Regions from separate parts of the Homo sapiens genome. Here region 2 is linked to region 1. The links come from fine-mapping of genetic effects on gene expression. Tissue or cell type: hypothalamus. Region 1 holds a variant in brackets; the other region holds the start of a gene. All regions are shown on one strand. Distances are from middle to middle.

Region 1 (8,000 bases):
TTTTGAGACAGAGTCTTATTGGGATTACAGGTATGAACCTCTGTGCGTGGTCATATTTTTCTAAGTATTTCTAATGGCTGCCTGATACTTTTTATTAACGGTTTTCTATCCTTTTACATTCAAATTGAATTTAGTATTTTTCTATTATAAATAATGATGCAGGGCAGGCGTGGTGGCTCACGCCTGTAATCCCAGCACTTTGGGAGGCTGAGGCAGGTGGATCACCTTAGGTCAGGAGTTCGAGAAGAGCCTGGCCAGCATGGTAAAACCCCATATCTACTAAAAACACAAAAATTAGCTGAGTGTCGAGGCACGAGCCTGTAATACCAGCTACTCAGGAGGCTGAGGTAGGAGAATCACTTGAACCCGGGAGGTGGAGGTTGCAGTGAGCCAAGATGGGGCCACTGCACTCTAGCCTGGGAGACAGAGGGAGAATCCATCTCAAAAAAAATTAACTAATTTAAAAAAATAACGATGCAGTGTACATCCTTACAACTGAATCTTTGTGTGTGTTATTTATTTTTTTGAGACGGATTCCAAGTGATTCTCCTGTCTCAGCCTCCCGAATAGTTGGAATTACAGGCGCACACCACCATGCCTGGCTAATTTTTGTATTTTTAGTAGAGACGGAGTTTCACCATGTTGCCATGGCTGGTCTCTCGAGCTCCTGACCTCAAATGATCCGCCTACCTTAGCCTCCCAAAGTGTTAGGAGTACAGGTGTGAGCCACCACGCTAGCCCTTGTTTATTTTCTTTTTTCTGTTTTTTTAAGATGGGGTTTCATTCTTGTTGGCCAGGCTGGAGTGTAATGGCGCAATCTCGGCTCACTGCAACCTCCACCTCCCAGGTTCAAGCGATTCTCCTGCCTCAGCTTCCCAAGTAGCTGGGATTACAAGCACGTGCCACCACGTCCGGCTAATTTTTGTATTTTTAGTAGAGACGGGGTTTCACCATCTTGGCCAGGCTGGTCTTGAACTCCTGACCTCGTGATCCACCCGCCTTGGCCTCCCAAAGTGCTGGGATTACAGGTGTTAGCCACCACACCCGGCCCCCTTGGATATTAAGTCCAATTTATGAAGGTAAAATAATTTAGGGACATTTATGTTTTTAATACTTATATTTTATTTATTTATTTAAAAAAGTTTTTTTGAGACAGAGTCTTGCCCTGTCACCCAGGCTGGAGTGCAGTGGTGTGATCTCAGCTCACTGCAGCCTCCTCCCGGATTCAAGTAAATCTCCTGCCTCTGCCTCCCAAGTAGCTGGGGACTACAGGCATGCGCCACCACACCCAGCTAATTTTTGTATTTTTAGTAGAGACAGGGTTTCACCATGTTGGCCAGGCTGGTGTCAAACTCCTGACCTCAAGTGATCTGCCCTCCTCGGCCTCCCAAAGTGCTGGGATTACAGGCGTGAGCCACGGTGCCCGGCCCCTTTAAAATATTTTTTGAAGATTGTTTTCCTTTATTCAGTCATTCTAAATAGACAATGTTTTCAAATCCCTTTCTTGGGATATCATGTGGAAGCTTCAATAATGAAAGACTAGTACCTATAATAATTTTACCTATATAAATGTAGGTTTTTATTGACAGGGACTTTCACTGCTAGAAGCTTTATTATTCTGCTAGTCTCAAAAGTTCTAACAGGGACAAGTGTCTGTGGTGGAGCTGAGCAGGCCTTATAGAGCAGTAGCAGTGTTTTTCTAAATAGCGTTTGAAAAGGCTCATGTCATAGATGGTTTATTTTCTGTTTAGATTGAAGGACGTGTTCTGCCAATGGAAAGAATTAACTTAAAAAATACTTCGTTTATCACATCTCAGGAACTAAACTGGGTTAAGGAAGTAACCAGAGACCCTTCCATCTTGACTGTAAGTGATTTTTGAAGTGATAAAGAGAGGACCAGTATTCCCCAAAGTGTGGGAATTAGGAAGCAGGAATGATCTAGAGTCTTCTTTTTTGAGGGAAAGTACCAATTGAATCCCCATTCTGAATTACCTACTAACCAGGGATCCTTCAAACAGAGCAGTTGATGAGTTGTTAGAGGTAAGCCCTTTGCCTGACCATAGACTTAGGGAAAGGAAATAAATTGCTGTGGTAATTCACATAGTGCCAACCTGTTACCCACTCTCCCTTCTTTCTTTCTCTTTTCCCCCTCTTTTTCCCCGGGAGTATCTAGAGGGTATTTGTATCCGTGAAAGAAGTTAGATTAAAACAGTACCTCACCTAGGGAACTAATAATACACTAGCTATTTGTATCAAGGTACAAAATGGCATATAATTACTTCTCAGTGTTTTTGACCAACATGGACTTCATGGCCAGATATATAAAAACAGATATATAAAATGCATGTTTTTAAATGTTTTATTGAAATATAAACGAAAAGCACACTTATAAACGTGTAACTTGATGAGTTTTTTTTTAATTAAATAGACCTGTGTAATCCACACCAAGGGTTAAGATGCAGAACTTTACCAGCACTCCAGAAGCCCCCTCCATTCTCCCAGTTCCTGCCTATCCCTTACCCCTCACACACCCAGTATAGCCACTGTCCTGACTTTTCACAGCACAGATTGATTTTACCAATTTCTGTACTTTACATATACATGGAATCATAGATTATATATTCTTCTGTGTCTGGCTTCTTTTCTTAAATTTGTGTTAGTGAGTTTCATCCTGTTGTTAGGCATGGTTGTTGCTCTTCCATTCTCATTACTGTATAACATTCCATTTTGAGACTACGCCACAGTTTTCTTATCATGTACGTTCATGTTAATACAGGAGTTAGATAAGACAGGATTCAAGCAATGAGAGTGAAAAGTAATTTATTCTCTAGAATGAAATCTTAAGTATGAGTTTGGGATATTTAAATTGTGAGAAATACTAAAAGCTCTTGGTTGTTCCTAGATCCCCATGCATTTCTGGGCACTTTTTTACCCAAAGAGAGCAATGGACCAGGCTCGAGAACTGGTCAACATGTTGGAGAAGATAGCCGGCCCCATTGGCATGCGTATGAGCCCACCGGCCTGGGTTGAACTAAAGGATGACCGAATAGAGACTTATGTCAGAACCATTCAATCCACGTTAGGAGCTGAGGTAAAAATGTAATTCAAATAAATTTATAGGATGTCCATTTTAAATTACTTAAATACTTAATTTTAATGTATCATGGTTATCAGTCTGCTGTTGATGATGCCCTAGAACTTGTCTTACCCATGCGCACATGAAATACTGATTGAAAAGTGTTCTTTATGCCCTTTGGTTAATTTTGCTTCTCTCACTCTGTGTTGGCACCCTCACTTACTCTAGTCTTCTTTTTCTTACGTAACTGGCTGAGAGAATAGCTGACTTAACTGTGGTTCATTATCT[A/G]TAGAACATGTTGTGCTCAGAAAGCAGCAGCTTGGGTTAGGTGCCGTCTTGCACGATTCACTACTGAGCTGCCTCAGTCCGGCCTGGTTCAAGATTAAAATTACTCTGGTGATGAACTTGGCAGATGGCCCATTGATTGGGTCCTGATGACTGATCAGGAACACTAGAGCTGGCCAGGTCATAGCACTCACAACTTAGTTATTCAGGCTTTTCAGTTCTTACCTGTTTGTAAATAAAATCGAACAAGAGGAATAGGGAGAGAAAAAAGCAAGGGGAAGGCTTTTGGAAGTAATTAGCCCTTGAATTGAACATTCTGGTAAATTGTTCTGGTGAGTTCAATCCTAGAATTCAATCATCTTGGCATCATAGAGTTCTTTTTTTAAATTTTTTTTTGAGAGATTGGGTCAGCTGGGCGCACAGTGGCTCACGCCTGGAATTCCAGCACGTTGGGATGCTGAGGTGGGCGGGTTGCTTGAGCCCAGGAGTTTGAGACCAGCCTGGGCAACCTGGCAAAACCCTGTCTCTACAAAAAATCTAAACATTAGCTGGGTGTGGTGGCATGCACCTGTAGTACCAGCTACTCAGGAGGCTGAGGTGGGAGAATCACCTGAGCCTGGGGAGGTTGAGGCTGCAGTGAGCTATGATCATGCCACTTTACTCCAACCTGGGCAACAGAGTGAGACCTTTTCTCCAAAAAAAAAAAAAAAAATGAGATAGGATTTTACTCTGTCACCCATGTGGAGTACACTGGTGCGATCTTAGCTCATTGTTGCCTCAAACTCCTGGGCTCAAGCAATCCTTCCGCCTCAGCCTTCCAAGTAGCTGGAACTACAGGCGTGGGCCATCACACCTGGCTAATTAAAAAAAAAAATTATAGAGGTAGGGTTTCACTATGTTGCCCAGGCTGGTCTCGAGCTTCTGGCCCCAAGTGATCCTGCTGCCTCAACCTCCCAAAGCAGTGAGATTACAGGCGTGAGTCACCATGCCCAGCAGCATTCTGTTTTTGATCTGGCACTCTTGGTGTATCATTCACAACAGCACACTTGTGTTCTTTCTTTGGTGTGTTTCTCTCTCTCTTTTTTTAGACACAAAGTCTTGACTCTGTTGCTCAGGCTAAAGTACAGTGGCATGATCATAGCTGACTGTAACATGAAACTTGAGGGCCCAAGGGATCCTCCTGCCTCAGCCTTCTGAGTAGCTGTAACTGTACACGTGCACCACCACTCCTGGCTAATTTTTAAATTTTTTGTAGAGATGGGGTCTCCTTCTGTTGCCCAGGCTGATCTCAAACTCCCAGCCTCAATCAGTCCTCCCACCTCCACCTCCCAAAGTGCTGGGATTACAGGTGTGAGCCACTGCACCCAGCCTGTGCATTCTCTATAATTCCATCCTGATCTACCATGCCTGTCATACTCTACCATGGCCTCCCTCAGACCTGATCATAGATAAGTTCTGCTCTGCTTTCAAAAGAATAACCCAGCCCAGTACATCAGCTCCCCCATTTCACAACTTGTGTTCCCTTTTTGAGAGGGTACAACTGACAGTTTTCATGTGGCATGGATGTGAATTTCATTCATATCGCTTACCAACTTATCTCATAGCGGCCTTGCTCTGTCTGTTCATCTTTAAGGCATTCCATTATCATCTCTATGAGGAATCACAAACTCGTATGTCTCCAGGAGCCTGATAAGGAGTATAAATGAGTGAAGTGGGCCAGGAGGGGAGTGAAATGAACTAAAGAGGGTAACTCCTGTGACTGGAGATATAAACCCAGGATTGCCAAAATGATTCTTAATGTGCTTGTTTGTTGGTAAAGGCCAAAAACCTGGAATTGCATATGTGTGTATCTTCCTATGTTTAAATGTTAATTTAAACAAACATAAACACTTTTAAGTCATTGTAGGGCCTGAAAAAACGCACCTGTTTGCTGTGTCCAGTCCATAGGCTCCCAGTGCGCAGCTCTGTTCTCATGCCTTTGGAAATGCTTGGTGTCGTTGCTCAATGTGTCCTCTGAACAGTCTTAACATTACACCAATCTTGATTTGGAGTAGGGTACCACTGATTTACCATTTGTAGCAGTTTCTGGCTTAAAGGGTTGGCAACCTTCTTTCACTTGAGTGCTGCTTTTCTTTATTCAGGCTTTGAAAGGTCCTCTTTTTTCAATATTGGATTCCTTCAGCAGTGAGGAATAGATGATACTGACATGCTGTGCTGCTGACAATATCATTCTGTCTCTTCACCAGAGTTAGGAGTGGCTGCTCATGAATTTGGCAATAGCTTCATTCCAGTTTGCATTTAGTTCTGAATGCTTTCTTGTAGTATTGCATTCCCTGTTTCCTTGGTTAAAGTTCTGTGGTATGAGTGTAATAAGTTGTTTAGTAAACCAAAGAGAGTAGTAAAAAACATTATACTGAATTGGAAGCAGCAAGTAATGTAAACCTTGCATGCATTCAAACCTGGTCCTTTTCCAGCCATCTGAGTCTTCTAATAGATAAATCTTTTGGTAATCAGGGCCAGCTCTGGGTAATTAATAGTAACATATTACCTATCTATACAGAACAGCCCTGAGCCAAAGAATGCTAATTCAGCTCCAAGGACCTTGTTCTGGTTGGAATGTCCACCCTCTTTATTTCAGTTCCCTGTCTTCCTTAAAGGTCCTATGGCTTTGCATACTCAGAATACTGCCAACTAGAGTCCTGTAAAAGTCCCCAGAGAATTCCACAGCCTGACTTGTATATACCTTATCTCCTCAAGGGGAAGATACAGATGGTTGTTTGCATCATCATGGGCCCACGTGATGATCTCTATGGGGCCATCAAGAAGCTGTGCTGTGTGCAGTCCCCAGTGCCCTCCCAGGTGAGTGGGTGTTGGGGCAGGAGGCGCAGATGGCACCTCTCGCCTCCCCGAGGCTTGAGAAGAGGGATATGTGTGTTCACAAAGACTAAAGTAGCTGTTAGAAGCCAGTATGTGCTGAGCCTTCTGGTGAAAGGTTCTCCTGATTAGAGCAACCTGGCAAAGAGTAGATTGCTCTTCATAAGCTGCCCTCATGCTTCCAAATGAACAGTTTCGCTTGTTCCGAGGTTGAGTCACCAGGTGGTTTCATGTGACTGAGTTCTGAGAGTGAATATAGGCTTCATTCTGAAAGGGGAAAGCTATTTTTCCTATGGGAGTTAAAAAAGCATTCCACTCTGCGTGAGATCCTTTTGAAAGTTTTCATTTGTTGGTTTTATTTTGTTTTGGGTTTGTGGTGTGTGTGTATGTGTGTGTGTGTGTGTTGTATTTTGCCCATGTGCATGCATGCCTAGAAACCCTAGAATTAGAATTATTAATGCGAAATGTGTTATCTTCTAACTTGAGTTTCTTAAACAAATGTAATGTTTACTTTAGAGTTCAGATTTTCTGAGAGGTTGATAGTGACCTGCTTCTCCTGACACCTTTTGGTCCCTTCATTATAGGTTGTCAATGTTCGAACCATTGGTCAGCCCACCAGGCTTCGGAGTGTGGCCCAGAAGATTTTACTTCAGATTAACTGTAAATTGGGTGGTGAGCTCTGGGGAGTGGATATTCCTCTGGTGAGTGATGCCGAGATGGTTCAGTTTGCCTCTCCAGAGAATCCTCCAAGCTGTTTTCCTGTTTTTCCTTATTCGTTATGCTTCCTCTTCTCAACACTTACTCAGTAGTCTAAATGGCTCCCTGCCTCTTCAGCCCATTATCTAAGAATGGGTTTTATGTTTGTTTGTTTTTTGTTTTTTGTGTTTTTGAGACGGATTCTTGTTCTTGTCGCCCAGGTTGGAGTGCGATGGCACGATCTTGGCTCACTGCAACGTCCACCTCCCAGGTTCAAGCAATTCTCCTGCCTCAGCCTCCTGAGTAGCTGGGATTACAGGTGCCCGCCACCATACCCAGCTAATTTTTGTATTTTTAGTACAGATGGGATTTCACCATGTTGGCCAGGCTGGTCTCAAACTCCTGACCTGGTGATCTGCCCACCTCAGCCTTCCAAAATGCTGGGATTACAGGTGTGAGCCACCATGCCCAACCTGGTTTTTATGTTTTTAAATGGCGGAAAAAATAAAACTAAGATGATTATTCCGTGACACATGAAAATTATATGAAGTGAGTTTTCAGTGTCTTTAAATAAAATTTCACTGGAATACAGCCATACTCCTTTTCATACTGTCCATGACTGCTTTTGTGTTAAGCAGATAGAATTAAATAAAGGTCAAGTATGCTTTTTCTGAAATACTTGGGACCAGAAGCATTTTGGATTTTAGATTTCTGGGGGTTTGGGTTCATTTGCTTGCATCCCAAATTCAAAAATCTGCAATCTGAAACACTCCAAAATCTGAAACTCTTTGAGTGTCATGTCGGTGCTCAAAAGCTTTTCAGATTTGGGAATGCTCAACCTGTGTTTTCTACAGAAATCATAAGACTCACAAAGCCTAAGTTATTTACCCTTTAGTCCTTTGCTGATCCCTGATCTAGATCTTAACTGTGCTTATTGTGTTTAAAAAATGTCAAGTTGATTGTCTTTTTTTTTTCTTTCCCAGAACTTACTTTCATGTATAAACAGTAAGGGGAGGTTGCTTTGGGATTCAGACAGTAATTAAAAATGGAGGAATGCATTGCTCAGGTC
Region 2 (9,048 bases), 37 kb before region 1:
TTCTGTTTATTCATTTACCAGTTGATGGACATTTAGGTGAAGTTTTTGGCAATTATCAATAATGCTGCTATGAACATTTGCATGCAAGTTTTGTGTGGACATGTTTTCATTTTTCTTAGGTAGCTACCAAGAAGTGAAATTTTGGTTCCTACAGTAATTTTTTTCTTAACTTTTTGAGAAACTGCCAAATGTTTCCCAAAGAGGCTGCATCATTTTACATTCCCACTGGCAATGTCTGAGGGTTCCTGTTCCACCACATCCTTGCTGACTTCTGTTATTCTATTAGTCAGACAGGCCTGCCATAACAAATTGCCACAGACTGGGTGGCCTCAGCAACACACATTTGTTTTCTCACAGCTCTGGAGACTATGATTCTATGATCAAGGTGCTGGCAAATTTGATTTCTGGTGAGTACCATCTCCCTAGTTTATAGATGGCCGCCATCTTGCTGTGTCCTCACATGGCCTTGTCTCTGTGCTTCCATGAAGAGAGAGGGATAGAGATAGAGAAAGATCTCATGTCTTTCTCTTCTGATAAGGACACAAATCCTATCAGATTAGAGCTCCTCCTTACCTCATTTATGTTAATTATCTCCCTACATACTTTATCTCCAAATACAGGGGATTAGGGCTTCAACATAGGTTTTGCAAGGAGGACACAATTCACTCCCTAACATTCCTCCCTCTGTCCCCCGCAAATTCATGTTCTTCTCACATGCAACACATTCGCCCCATCCTAACAGCCCCCAAAGTCTTACACCGTTTCAGTATCAATTGCAAGTCTAAGATCTCATCTAAATACAATAGGCCCTCCCTATCCACGGGTTCTGCATCCATGGATTAAACCAACCACAAATCAAAAATATTTGGAAAAAACAAAAAGGATGGCTGCATCAGTACTGAACAGGTGCAGACTTTTTTCTTGTAATTATTCCCTAAACAATACAGTGTAACAACTATTTATGTAGCATTTACACTGTATTTGGTATTATAATTCATCTAGAGACAATTTAAAGTATACAGGGAAATGTGCATAGGTTATATGCAAATATAAAATACACCATTTTATATAAGAGACTTGAGCATCTGTGAATTTTGGTATCCATGGAGGGAGGTCCTAAAAACCAATACTCTGCAGATACTGAAGGACAAATTCCATTAAATTTTACGGCTCCAGTCAGGGGTGGTGGCTCACACCCATAAGCCACTGAGTTCAAGACCAGCCTGGGCAATATGGTGAAACCCTGTCTCTACTAAAGGGCTTATTAGTTCCAACAAGAGCTGGTTGTTAAAAAGAACCTAGCGCTTCCCTCCCCTCTCTTGCTTCCTCTCTCTCCATGTAATCTCTGCACAGGCCGGGTCTCTTTGCCTTCTGCCATGAGTGGAAGCACCCTGAGGTCCTCACCAGGTGTCCAGTCTTGAACCTTCCAGCCAGCATAACCATGAGCTCGATAAACCTCTTTTCTTTATAAATTACCCAGCCTCAGGTATTCCTTTATAGTAACACTAAAGGGACTAATGGACTGACACAGGTCCACTCACATCTTTTGGCCCCCCCCCCTTTTTTTTTGAGAGAGAGTTTTGCACTTGTTGCCCAGGCTGGAGTGCAGTGGCGTGATCTCAGCTCACTGTAACCTCCGCCTCCCGGGTTCAAGTGATTCTCCTGCCTCAGCCTCACGAGTAGCTGGGATTACAGGCACCACACCAACATGCCTGGCTAATTTTTATGTTTTTAGTAGAGACAGCATTTCACCATGTTGGCCAGGCTGGTCTCGAACTCCTGACCTCAGGCCATCTGCCCACATTGGCCTCCTAAAGTGCTGGGATTACAGATGTGAGCCACCATACCTTTTGCCCATTTTTTTATTAGATTGTGTGTCCTCCTGTTATTCGGCCTGATGTGTTTCGTGAGCTCATATTTATTCATACCTTTTACGTGGGAGTTTTGGGAGCCTGGTGTATTTCTCCTGAAAGGATTTCTAGTTATCTCTGCCAGGAACCCAGACATACTACATAGGTCTACTTTAAATGAAATCCTTCCTATAGGTTTTAGGCCCCACCAGTAATGTAATTTTCTGCCCTTAATCTTGCTGTGGCTCTGGGGATCTTATTTTCTGAACAGCAGCAACAACAACAACAACAAACCAGAATACATGGTTGGAATAGAAATATTTATGGTGACCAAGTGCCCAGGGTATTTGGAGTCATGACTGCCTAGGAAAATTCAGGTTATGTATAGTTATGGGGCCATTTTCACTCTGAATTTTAGAGACTGGCAGGGCCAGGTGGACAGAATTTGGTGTTACGACTTTTTTGAGTTAAAAAAAAAATCTGTGATTTATCTCAAAATACTATCTCTTAGTGTGATATACGTGCTCTTTTTGCCCCTTTCATTTTTAATTAACAAATAGCAATTACATATGGTTATGTGGTACAGTATGATATTCTGATATTTATTTACATTGTGGAATGATTAAACCAAATTAACATATCCATCACCTCACATACTCATCTTTTTGTGATGAGATTATGTGTGTCCTTTTTAATCAATATCCTAGGGATGGCTAATTAACAATTAAAGTACTCTGTTAGGGAATATAATCTCCAAAAGAGGTTGATTAGCTTTTGAAAGGTCCTAAATAGATGTCCACGTTTCAGAAAGCTTCAACCATTTTTATGTCCAATCAACAGCAGGACTATATGGATTTTCCTTTGGTTAAATAAGTAGTGTTAATGATGTCTGGATTAGCTAGAAATACTGTACGAAGGCCACCTACACTTGCATGGATGGACAGGATATAGAAATCTAGGAAACCCAATGTGCATACCCTTTGTAATGGTGCTCTTGGTTTAGGTTCCCAAATAGAAGACATACTCAGGAAATTATCTGAGGATTATTATTCCCTTACTTCAACTAGAAGATTTGCTGAATCCTGCCCCCAAAATATTGTTTCATGTGTATAGAATAAGTGTGTCATGCAAAGTTTGGTCGGAGTTCCTAAAAGAACAAGGAGTTGGATCTTCACGAAAGTTACAAAACAGTTTGTATAACTGTTTTTGACTGCACTTGCTACCATTAAGTATTTGCACAGGCAGGAGAATTGCTTACAACATAACATTGCAACAGCTGCAAGTTAAGAAGGTTGTGTGGTAAAGGAAGTGAAAATGTTAGATCATGGTAAACAAATACTATCTAGGAACAGTGAAGGGGCATCGTGCCAACTGGATTCCTGAGTTGAAAATCATCCTGCTCCAATAATTTTCAGACTATCCTCATTCGGGAAGGATAGGGAGGGCCCTTGTATGTGTGGATTAAAATAAGTCATGGGATATCTGAGGCCTGGAAAAAATAAGGTTAACCCTTCTCTAGTCCTATTCCATGCAGAGCCCTTGGATGTCTCTATAGCATCCGCCAAAGCCTTCAGAAGCTTTACCTCAACCACACTGTAAAACCTGGGTGTGGGAGAGGGATGCAGTTATTTGACAAAATGGTTGGGAGAGGGTCAGAAATCTTTCTTTGGGTAAAATCATTCTGTAGTTGCTGAAGTAACCACTGATAATTTAATCTGCTTCCTAGAAAGCTCTTCTTGGCTCACAGATTTAGGCATCAATAAAAATAGGCAACATTTATCGAGGGTCGTCTTCTCCTTGTGCTAAGTATTTTACATACGTTATGTCATTATGTGTGTACATTTCCATTCAACCCTATGAATGGATGTTTTTAGTTTTTATCTCTGTTTTATGTATAACGAAAGTGATGTGCAGAAATCATATGAATTAGGTGTTTGAATGCGCACTCGAGCTTACCGTTTCTTTTTCACCACCTGTATCGCTAATCCTCTTAACTGGCAGGAATGGGGCAAGTCAATTTCAACACGCGAGTCTTAGGCTAAATCTGTTTATAGGAGTTGCCCCCAGAAAGGGAGTCAGGATCTCCAAACCCTAACACATTTTAACGCTGAGGTTCACATAACTCCCAGCGCTCCTTCCGCACGAACCGCCCCTGCACAGGGAACCTGCTGGAAAGGACGAGCCTCTCTTGCAGATGGGCCAATTAGATAGCTTGCTCTTGTGAACGACAGGTCTTGTGGCCAATGGGCTCATCCCCGGAGGCCTCGAAGAGCGGAAATTGGCCCTGGAGCATGTGGGCCCCGGGGCGTGGGTTGAGCTCGGTCTTCCCCTGAGGCCGCGCGGAGCTGGGCGACTGGGGCGAGGACTCGCGCACAGGTGAGTACTGGCCCCGGTTGCGGCATGCCAGGCAGGCCAGGGTCGCTCGGGGGCGGGCAGGTTGGGTTTTTGCTCAAGCACGTGGGGTGAGCCGCCCTCCCGGGCCTCTCCCCTCCCACTTCGGGGAGCTGCTGAGGGTTGCGGGTCGGGCGGGGGCGGGAAGTCGTTATTCGAGGCCCGGCGCCGCGGCCCCAAGAAGGTGTCCAGGTTGGGGCGGCAGGGGAGGCCCTCCGGAGGCCCAAGTGGACGTCTTATTTGGCCTGAGAGAGGAGATAGAACCCCTGGCAGGGCTGTGGCTTTGGGGAAAGGTGCTTTTCTCGGGGTGGAAAGGGGATGGGACTCGCCTTCGGGGGCCTTGCTTCTGGTTAGGCCCGAGTCGCGAGGCCTCAGCGCGGAGCACGCACCCAGGGATGCGAGGGAGGCAGGCCCAGCCCGTCCTGGGTTCGCTCCCCATTGAACCTTTCGGACAGCCAAGTATCTGCTACCTGATCCCAGGGGGAAACCCACACTGGGAGAGGGCCCTCTGGGGGAGCTACCTGAATCTATAGAAGTGGTGCTGGAGGTTGAGGGAAGCGTGGACAAAGAGGAAGATTCCAGATGTCCCTTAAGGGAGGCCGTCCAGCGCTTCTGAGTATGTAGCTGTTAGCATACTGATTGCTTGGGATTCTTTGGGTGGTGTTGGGGAGGTGTGAGCAGAGTCCTGGCTCACCGAAAAGGGGTGTTAGCAGTTAAATATAGCCTTCAAGAAAGGGAGTCATATCCTGCGTTTAGAGTGTGAAAGAGGATAGTTTAGTTCAATAAATTTTGCAAGTTCCTGAACTGTCTGCACTTACGCTGTGGGTTTATGAATTGTGTGTTAATATTTTCTTTAAATGTATGATTTCTCTGTAGCTAATACTTAAGACAGCTTTTTTGTTTGTTTGTTTGTTTGTTTTGAGACGGAGTCTCGCTCCGTAGCGCAGGCTGGAGTGCAGTGGCGTGATCTCTGCTCACTGCAACCTCCGCCTCCCAGGTTCAAGCGATTCTCCTGCCTCTGCCTCCCGAGTAGCTGGGATTACAGGCGCAGGCCACCATGCCCAGCTAATTTTTGTATTTTTAGTAGAGATGAGGGTTCACCATTTTGGTCAGGCTGGTCTCGAACCCCTGACCTTGTGATCTGCCCACCTTGGCCTTCCAGAGTGCTGGGATTACAGGCGCGAGCCACCACCCCCGGCCAAGACAGCTTTTTGAAAGTTAAGAAGAGGCTTCTCCCAGCATTTGGGGAGTCTGAGGTGAGAGGATCACTTGAGGTCAGCAGTTTGAGACCAGCCTGGGCAACATGGCAAGATCCCGTCTCTACAAATTTTTTTTAAAAATTAGCTGGGTATGGTGGCAGGTGCCTGAAGTCCTAGCTACTTGGGAGGCTGAGACAAGAGGACTGCTTGAGCACAGGAGGTTGAGACTGCAGTGAGCTAAGATGCCACCACTTCACTGTAGCCTGGATGACAGAACAAGACCCTGTCTCTTAAAAAAAAAAAATTCTTTTCCGTTAAGAAATATTTTTCAGGAATCAGGGGCAAGTCAGGACAATGAGAGGAGCCCCTTAAAGAGGGAGTCTTGAAATCTGTAGGTTATAAAGTGATATATATATATATATTTTTTTTTTTGAGACAGAATCTTGTGCTGTCACCCAGGCTGGAGTGCCACGATCTTGACTCACTGCAACCTCCGCCTCCTGGGTTCAAGCAATTCTTGTGCCTCAGACTCCTGAGGAGGGGGGATTACAGGCATGCACCACCATGCCTGGCTAATTTTTGTATTTTTAGTAAAGACAGGGTTTCATCATGTTTGCCACGCTGCTCTTGAGCTCCTGATCTCAAGTGATCCACCCGCCTCGGCCTCCCAAAGTGCTGTGATTACAGGCATGGGCCACCATGCCCGACCTACAGGTTATGAAGTGATTTTGAAGAGACCTGATGGGCTTTAGATTTGGTAGGGAAGCCAGGGAGAGCCTCACCCCGGGTAACCTGGGAGAGAGAAGGGTGTTAAATGCAACCTGTGAGACTGAGCAAGTATTGTAGGCTCAAAGCAGAAAGACTGTGTACTCTGGAGACTTCTGATGGAGTTTGAAAGAAGAGAGTTTTTAAAATTTTTTTTTCTATTTTTTAATTATTTGTAGAGACAGGGTCTCGTTGTGTTCCTAAGACTGGCCTCAAACTCCTGGCCTCAATGGTCCTCCCACCTGGGCCTCCCAGAGTGCTGGGATTACAGGCATGAACCACTGTGTGTGTGTGCTCAGCCTGAAGGAAGAATTTTGTAAAAAAGAATTGGATAGAGATTCGGAGAAGCAGCTAAACAGATCAAGGAAGAGAATTTGGTGCAATCATAGACTGGAAAAAAGTTAGGACTCTTATGTAGGAAAGAGAGGCCAAAAACAAAGCAAAAACCCATAAATATTTGTTGACAATAATTTTATGATATGGCTGTGTTAACTATGAAATTGTTTATAGGCCAGGCACAGTGGCTCACACCTGTAATCCCAGCACTTTGGGAGGCCCAGGTGGGCTGATCGCCTGAGGTCGGGAGTTCGAGACCAGCCTGACCAACATAGAGAAACCCCGTCTCTATTAAAAATACAAAATTAGCCGAGCATGGTGCTGCATGCCTGTAATCCCAGCTACTCGGGACGCTGAGGCAGGAGAATCACTTGAACCCAGGAGGCAGAGGTTGCGGTGAGCCAAGATTGCACCATTGCACTCCAGCCTTGGCAATAAGAGTGAAACTCCGTCTAAAAAAAAAAGGGGGGGAGGAAAAGAAATTGTTTATAAACCAAAGTCATCCTCATACATAAAAACTGCCTTAGCCAGGTGCAGTGGCTCACACCTATTATCCCAGCATTTTGGGATGCTGAGGCAGCAGATCTCTTGAGCCCAGGTGTTTGAGACCAGCCTTGGCAACGTGGCAAGACCCCGTCTGTACAAAAAATGTACAAATTAGCTGGGTGTTGTGGTGCATGCCTGTAGTCCCAGCTACTCAGGAGACTGAGATGTGAGGGTCACTTGAGCCCAGGAGGTCAAGGCTGCAGTGAGCCATGATCATGCCACTGCACTCCAGCCTGGGCGACAGAAGGAGACCCTCCTAAAAAACTGCTTCCTTATACAACAGCTAGTTAACTCACAGGACTGAGTTTTGTGAGAGGCTATTTGGGTAGAAAATATAAGTAAGTTCAAGGAGGACACGGGCCTCTAAGGCAGGGGTTCCCAACCCCCAGGCCACAGGCTGGTTGGGGGGCCTGTTAGGAACTGGGCTGCACAGCAGGAGGTGAGAGATTGGCAAATGAGCAAAGCTTCATCTGTATTGACAGCTGCTCCCCATGGCTTGTAGTATCACCTGAGCTCTGCCTCCTGTCGGATCACTGGTGGCATTAGATTCTCATTGTGCAAACCCTCTTGTGAACTTCGCATTGGAGGGATCTAGGTTGCATCCTCCTTATGAGAATCTAATGCCTGATGATCTGTCACTGTCTCCCATCACCCACAGATGGGACCAGCTAGTTGCAGGAAAACAAGATCAGGGCTCCCACTGATTCTACATTATGGTGAATTGTATAATTATTATATTTCATTATCTATTATAATGTAATAATAGAAATAAAGTACACAATAAATGTAATGTATTTGAGTCACTCTGAAACCATCCCCCCACCCCTGGGTCCATGGAAAAATTATCTTCCAGGAAACCAGTCTCTGGTGCCAAAAAGGTTGGGGACCACTGCTCTGAGGGATTGTTAATGAAGGATGTTTAGAATATTACAGATCAAATAGAAGCCTTTGAAGTGAATATGTTGTAGAAGGCTAGGCGTGTTACTGGACTGACTCAAAATACTATTTTAATGCTTTGTGAGTGTGTCTTGAAGGAAAAGGAAAACAATTGGGAATCTTAATCTTTTGAAAATGATGGCAGGTAATTAACCAGAACAGGATCGACACGTGTTCTCTACAGCCCGTCCATGGATCCTTTCCGACCATCGTTCAGGGGCCAGTCTCCTATCCACCCATCCCAGTGCCAGGCTGTACGGATGCCAGGCTGTTGGCCACAAGCTTCTAAACCTTTGGACCCAGCTCTGGGCAGGGGAGCACCTGCAGGCAGAGGCCATGTATTTGGAAAGCCAGAGGAACCAAGCACACAGAGGGGGCCAGCACAAAGGGTAAGACCACTTCCGGATGCATAGGAGTGGCATACAGCTTACCTGTGTGCCGTCAGAGGAAGTAATGGATTTCAAAGTGCTTGCAGGGCTGGGCACGGTGGCTCACGCCTGTAATCCCAGCACTTTGGGAGGCCGAGGCAGGTGGATCATCTGAGGTCGGGAGTTCAAGACCAGCCTGGCCAACCAACATGGTGAAACCCTGTCTCTACTGAAAATACAAAAATTAGCCAGGTGTGGTGGCGGGTACCTGTAATCCCAGCTACTCAGGAAGCTAAGGCAGGATAATTGCTTGAACCGTGGAGGCGGAGGTTGCGGTGAGCTGAGATCTCGCCAGTGCACTCCAGCCTGGGCAACAGAGCGAGACTCCATCTCAAACAATGACAACAAAGTGCTTGCAAAACTGGGAAGCCCTAAACAGAAACAAGGTTGTCTTTTTTTTTCTTTAACAAGTAGATACATCTGGGCAAATATTTCAAATCTAGAGTTTCTAGAGGTATGAAGAAGTACCTCATAATGAGCGCTAGATGGACTTGGTAAGTACCATAGGTCCTCTAGCTTCCGATCATCCCTCCATCCCTCCATCTGTAATTGTTAGGTCTAAAGGTACAATCTCTTGTTGTTTTCTGAATATTTAGA

Alleles and levels. Alleles are on the strand shown, and positions count from the first base shown. SD is a standard deviation of normalised expression in the study named.
In carriers of allele A in region 1, the expression in hypothalamus of the gene that starts at base 4,144 in region 2 tends to be higher than with G alone (large effect, 0.78 SD a copy in GTEx).

The links. PIP is the estimated chance that this variant, and not a neighbour inherited with it, causes the effect.
Region 2: it holds the start of PIWIL2, and the variant in region 1 is fine-mapped to the expression of PIWIL2 in hypothalamus (GTEx, PIP above 0.99).

The regions. Positions count from the first base shown.
Region 1 is chr8:22,308,210-22,316,209 of GRCh38, forward strand. PIWIL2 (piwi like RNA-mediated gene silencing 2) reads left to right here. Exons shown (of 23, transcript NM_018068.5): 15 at 1,752-1,865; 16 at 2,903-3,091; 17 at 6,119-6,220; 18 at 6,820-6,936. Among named protein-coding and RNA genes, the nearest start is that of PIWIL2, 37 kb to the left of the region's middle. The variant A/G (reference allele first, on the strand shown) is at 3,365.
Region 2 is chr8:22,271,173-22,280,220 of GRCh38, forward strand. PIWIL2 (piwi like RNA-mediated gene silencing 2) reads left to right here and starts at 4,144. Exons shown (of 23, transcript NM_018068.5): 1 at 4,144-4,226; 2 at 8,169-8,412. The coding sequence starts at 8,215. PIWIL2-DT (PIWIL2 divergent transcript) reads right to left here and starts at 3,990. Exons shown (of 2, transcript NR_134293.1): 1 at 3,807-3,990. RefSeq lists an enhancer at 4,424-5,069.